Regions from separate parts of the Homo sapiens genome. Here region 1 is linked to region 2. The links come from fine-mapping of genetic effects on gene expression. A gene starts in region 2. The other region holds a variant in brackets. All regions are shown on one strand. Distances are between the middles of the regions. Region 1 overlaps UBE3C (ubiquitin protein ligase E3C). Region 2 holds the start of UBE3C (ubiquitin protein ligase E3C).

Region 1 (3,024 bases), 34 kb after region 2:
TGCAACCTTCCCCTCCCGGGCTCAAGCAATCGGTGGTGTCTCAGCCACCTAAGTAGCTGGAATTACAGGCGTGTTACCAACATGCCTGGCTAATTTTTGTATTTTTAGTAGAGACAGGGTTTCACCATGTTGGCCAGGCTAGCCTCCAACTCCTGGCCTCAAGTGATCCTCCCACCTCATCCTCCCAAAGTGGTAGAATTATAAGCATAAGCCACCATGCCCAGCCTTAGGGTCTCATGTTTTTAAAAAAAATCCCAAATGTAATCGTAGTTCTCTAAAATTTTGTAGGCTGTTGATCTTATCAGTGCTGAGGAACAGTGTGTATTAATGGTGGAAAATACAACCAGATGCATAGAAGAATAATTTTTTTAAAAAATGGAATTTGTTACTGTCCATTTTCTCAAGGAATATTAAGAGATTTGTATATAATTGTTGGGTTATATACATTTTTAAATATTTTATATATATATATATATATATATATATTTTTTTTTTTTTTTTTTTTTTTTTTTTTTTTTTTTTTGAGACAGAGTCTTGCTCTGTCACCCAGGCTGGAATGCAGTGGCATCATCTCGGCTCACTGTAACCTCCGCCTCACGGGTTCAAGCGATTCTCCTGCCTCAGCATCCCAAGTAGCTGGGATTACAGACGTGTACCACCACGCCCAGCTAATTTTTGTATTTTTAGTGGAGATGGGATGTCGCCATGTTGGGCAGGCTGGTCTCGAACTCCTGGCCTCAGGTGATCCACCTGCCTCGGCCACCCATAGTGCTGGGATTACAGGCATGAGCACTGCACCTGGCCTAGGTTAAATATGCTATTTATCTTTTTTTTTTTTCCTTTTTGAGACGGAGTCTTGCTCACTCTGTCGCCCAGGCTGGAGTGTAGTGGTGCGATCTCAGCTCACCGCAACCTCGCCTCCTGGGTTCAAGCGATTCTCCTACCTGAGCGCCCTGAGTAACTGGGGTTACAAGCTTATGCCACCACCCCTAGCTTAAATTTTTTTGTATTTTTAGTAGAGTCAGGTTTCACCATGTTGGCCAGGCTGGTCTGTACTCCTGACATCAAGTGATCCACTTGCTTTGACATCCCAAAGTGCTGGGATTACAGACATGAACCACCACACCCAGCCAGGTTAAATATATAATTTATTTTTGGAAATTTTTGTTTATCTGTGTTAAAAATTTCAAATTGCATGAAAGGGGAGTATACAGTGAAAAATAAGTCTTCCTCGCTACAAACCATCCCTACTAGAATGATCCTACTTGAATTAATTACAGCGGACAAAGGAATACATGATTATTCCTCTAGTGTTTGGCTTTAAAACCCAGCATTGCCTCCAGAGTTGAGCTAAGGTGGAACATGGTGAAGACTTTCTGTAAACCGAGAACGTGCAGAGAAGGAACTGAGAGCCAGTCTAGAGAGGCAGTGAAAGCCGTTGAATCTACCCATTCTGGACTTCAGTTAAGTGCAGGCTCTTTCCAGGCTTGCTTTCTGAAGTTGTTGAAAAAAAGAATCAGAATAGTACAACGGCAGATAATCGGGCTTGCTTTCTGGAACAGGATGTCCTGGCCTCACATACTCTAATCTTGTAGATT[A/G]CAAGATCACCAAGGAGCACAGACAGGCAGGTGCTGTGAGATGTCGATTGGTGTCTCTCCAGAGCACCTATTGCCTTTGAGTGAGGTCCTCAATCTTAGTCATCAGTCACGACATGGTGTAGCTACACAGTCTTGCTTCAGAAGCCATCTGTGAAAAGCTTGGAGGTAAATGAACATATTTGACTTTCGGCCTCGAGCAAATATCAAGCAAATTGCTCATGTGCAGATTCTGAAACCTGAAATAGAATTAAATGTCATAAGACCAGTCCAGGAAAAGGATAAAAGAAAAGTGGGCTGGACACAGTGGCTCAGGCCTGTAATACCAACACTTTGTGGGGCTGAGGTGGGAGGATCCCTTCAGGCCAGGAGTTTGAGACCAGCCTGGCCAAAATACCAGACCCCACCTGTAAAACAAAGCAAAAAATAAATTAGCTGGCTGCGGTAGCTTGCTGCTGTAGTCCAGCTACTTAGGAGGCTGAGGCAGGAGGATCGTTTGAGCCCAGGTATTCAAGGCTGCAGTGAGCTATGATCCTGCGACTGCACTCCAGCCTGGGCGGTTGAATGTTGATTCAGTTCTCAAGCATAGATGCGATAGCAATAAATTAATCTTAACGTAGGGGAAAATGTCTCCTGCCCCAGTCTTCACATTGTTTGCCTTCTACTCTAGGAGTAAGCATAATGCCACTTTTGATGGGTTTTCAAAGTTATTCTATGCAAAAATCAACATATATGGCTATTTCTTCCTCACCTCCTTTTTAAAAAATTTTTCTTACGACTTTAAGTCAAATATGGTACTAAGATTATATTTTATGTATAGTTTAATTCTGGAATTAATTGCCTCACTTTTTAGTTGCTTAATTTTCTTTGAATCTTTTGATAAAGTCTTCTTCCAACAGTCCTATTATATAATGTATAGTTATTTTACATCTTATTTGTTAACTGATAATAGAAATTTTAGGACGAACTACATGTCAGATGGTGAAGGGAGTATTCATACCTTATTCATTCCTGAGAAAATGTGGGCAAGGTGGCTCCAAACACCTCAAGAGAAAGCCTGTGTGTAGGCAAATTAACTAATATTCGGAGTAGTTCAGAATTATTTCATCCCAGTTTAAGACATGCGCTAATTTATTATGCAGAGTGCTTTTGTGTTGGTAATTTCATTGTTTAATAACGTTTTATGGCAAAGAAATGTTAATGTCGAAGAAACTACTTAAAAATATAGGCAAAGACAAGGCTATGTGGCGTATTTATGACTAGCTACACTTAAGAGGCTATCTTTGCCGAGGGTGGTGGCTCACGTGTATAATCCCAGCGCTTTGGGAGGCTGAGGTTGGTGGATCACTCGAGGCCAGGAGTTCGAGACCAGCCTGGCCAACATGGCAAACCCCGCCCCTACTAAAAATATAAAAATTAGCTGGGCGTG
Region 2 (2,761 bases):
AGAGTGCTGGGATTACCGGCGTGAGCGACCGTGCTCGGCCGCAGGACGACTGTAGATGATATCGTATTGTGTGTTGAAATTTTGCTAAGAGAGTAGATTTTATGTACTCTTACCACACACACACAAAGAGGGTAGTCATTTCACAATGTCTCTATGAAATCATCATGTTGCACACCTTGTATACAACCAAAAATCAATTTTTAGAAATTGGTTTCAATCGTGTATGATATATATGTATATGCACATGTATATGAGATATTATGTATACGTATGTGTGGATATAAGACACATGTTTATGTATAGGTGGTCCCCAACTTAAAATGGCTCAACTTACAATTTTTTGACTTTGTGATGGGTTTATTGTAGCATTAAATACATTTTCAACTTACAATATTTTCATCTTACGATGGGTTTATCAGGACAAAGCCCCATGGTAAGTCCAGGAGCAAATATTTTTGCATACACAGGTATGTGTACATGATACATATTTATATGTATTGATGCTGTATCTATAGATGCATATGTGTGCTATGTATGAGGCAAATCTGCGCATGTCTGTGTACATGGTAAATATTTACGTCCGTCTGTGCGTGTCATAGACATAGAACAGGTGGGATGTAAACAGACGGGCTGGGCCTAGCTGCTCCTTTCCCGCCTCACTCGAGTCTGGCACCAGATTGGCCGCTCCCAGCCCGCTCCGGGTGCCGGCCCCTGCACCCCACCCTGCACCCCGCACCCTGCCCTGCACCCCATCCCGGCCCGTGCCTCGCACTCCACCTTTCCCGCACCCTGCCCCGCACCCAACACCTCCCGCGCCCCTCGCCGCGCTCCCCCAGCACGCACCAGGCCCCGCCCACTCCGCCGCGTGCCCAGCCCGCGTCACCGCCGTCCTCCCCAGGCTCCAGCGCGCCTTGCGGGGCCGCGCACGCTAGCGGAACCGCCGGGAAGAGCGCCGTGCCGTCAATGGCGGAGGCGCGCACGTCTGCAGGGCCGCGCACGTCTGCAGGGCCGCGCACGTCTGCAGGGCCGCGCACGTCTGCAGGGCCGCGCACGTCTGCAGGGCCGCGCACGTCTGCAGGGCCGCGCACGTCTGCAGGGCCGCGCACGCACTGACGGCTGACCGCCATCTTCCCTCCCGAGGCGGCAGTTCCAGGTGCAAGCGCCGGGTTTGCTGCCCGCTGGGCGCCCCTGCAGCGGCCCGAGCTGTGGCCGGCGTGGATGAGGGGCAGGCGAGGCAGGGCCGCCCCTCCAGTATTGCCGCCCCTCCCGCCCCAGGGCAGGGCTGGGAGGGTACAGCCCGGGGGCGGGCTCGGGTCGCCTCCCGGCCGCCGCGTCCTCGCTGCCCCGGGCCGGGCGGGCGGGCGCCGAGAGCCTCCCAGCCCGCCCCGTGCCCCGCCCGCCCGGCTGCTTCCGCGGCGGCGCTGCCCGCACATGGGCTAGGCTGCCAGGATGTTCAGCTTCGAAGGCGACTTCAAGACGCGGCCCAAGGTGTCCCTTGGCGGCGCGAGCAGGAAGGTGAGGGCCGGGCTGGCGGGGCGCCCTCGGCTCGGGGCCTGCGCGGCCGGGGCTCGGGGCTGGGACTCGGGGCTGGACTCGGGGCTGGACTCGGGGCCGAGACTTGGGGCTGGATTCGGGGCCTCCCTGGCGGGGACTCGGGGCTTCCTCGCCGGATCTCGGGGCCGCTCCGGCCGGGACTCGGGGTTGGACTCGGAGCCGAGACTTGGGGCCAGGACTCTGGCTGGGGCTTAGGACTGGACTCGGGGCCTCCCTGGCTGGAACTCGAGGCCGCGCCCGTGGGGGCCTTGCCTGTCCACTGCGCTTCGGGACCCGGGCGCGCTGGCCGTGGCTCCCTTCCATGCAGGAGGCCGGTGAACCCTGGCACGCTTTGTGCCACCCAAGGTGAACTTACCCTTTCTGGGTGTTTCCTTTCAGAAATGCGCTTTCCATGCTCGCTCCCGCATGGCATCAGGGAGTGGCTGCTTTTCGAATGCCACCTGAAGGGCGTTTTCGGTTGTAGAAGGTGAACGGCACGCATTTGCTGATGTCGATAATCTCTAAAGTAGAGGCAGAACGTCTCATGAATAGCCACGTGTTTGAATCCAAGACGAGGGCAATTATTTGCCACCAGCCTCCTGGAAACTGTGGAGAGACTCCGGACTTACATCTGTTGTGATCGACATTAAGTTGTTCGCATGGTAATTGTTTAGGATAAGGGTAGGCAAACCATGACGCCTCTGTTCTAGTCTAGAATTTCTAGCTGTCTGTCCCTGAAGACGGGCATCAGTTGGTTCACTGGAACCGCTAAGTCGTTGAACACTGTGTGGTCTTGTTCCCGCCCCTCCCTTCCCACCCCTTCCCATCATTTCTGAAATGTTCTTTAAAATGCTTCACCTAGTTTTTCTTGTCTATCAGTATATTCTGTATATCACAACCACCAGGTAGGCACATAACGCAGAGTGGGTGCTGGCAGGCCAAGGAGGAACTGCTGTTATTAAGATTGTGCTGTGGGGCTGTGTTTGGTGGTTTCTGAGGTTAGAAGGGAACCTGGGTAAAGAGTTGGGAGAGAAGTGTGCTGATAATTTTTCAGCTTTGAGGTTCGTGTGATGGTGATTGCTTGGAAGTCACTTGTGCTCCAGAACTAAGTACTGTGCAGTTAAGGGTGGTCGTGGTAGCACTTAGGGTCTTCCACGTTAATGAAAATGTTTTATGAGATCAAAGGATTTCTACAGTTAGGAGAGACTTCAGAGAATCTCAGGGCCAA

What was found.
Region 1: its variant is fine-mapped to the expression of UBE3C in whole blood (TOPMed, PIP 0.90).

Annotation. Positions count from the first base shown.
Region 1 is chr7:157,171,202-157,174,225 of GRCh38, forward strand. The region is part of intron 4 of UBE3C (ubiquitin protein ligase E3C); the gene reads left to right. Among named protein-coding and RNA genes, the nearest start is that of UBE3C, 34 kb to the left of the region's middle. The variant A/G (reference allele first, on the strand shown) is at 1,599.
Region 2 is chr7:157,137,824-157,140,584 of GRCh38, forward strand. It overlaps UBE3C (ubiquitin protein ligase E3C), which reads left to right and starts at 1,103. Exons shown (of 23, transcript NM_014671.3): 1 at 1,103-1,515. The coding sequence starts at 1,450. RefSeq lists silencers at 595-944, 1,225-1,614, 1,665-1,734.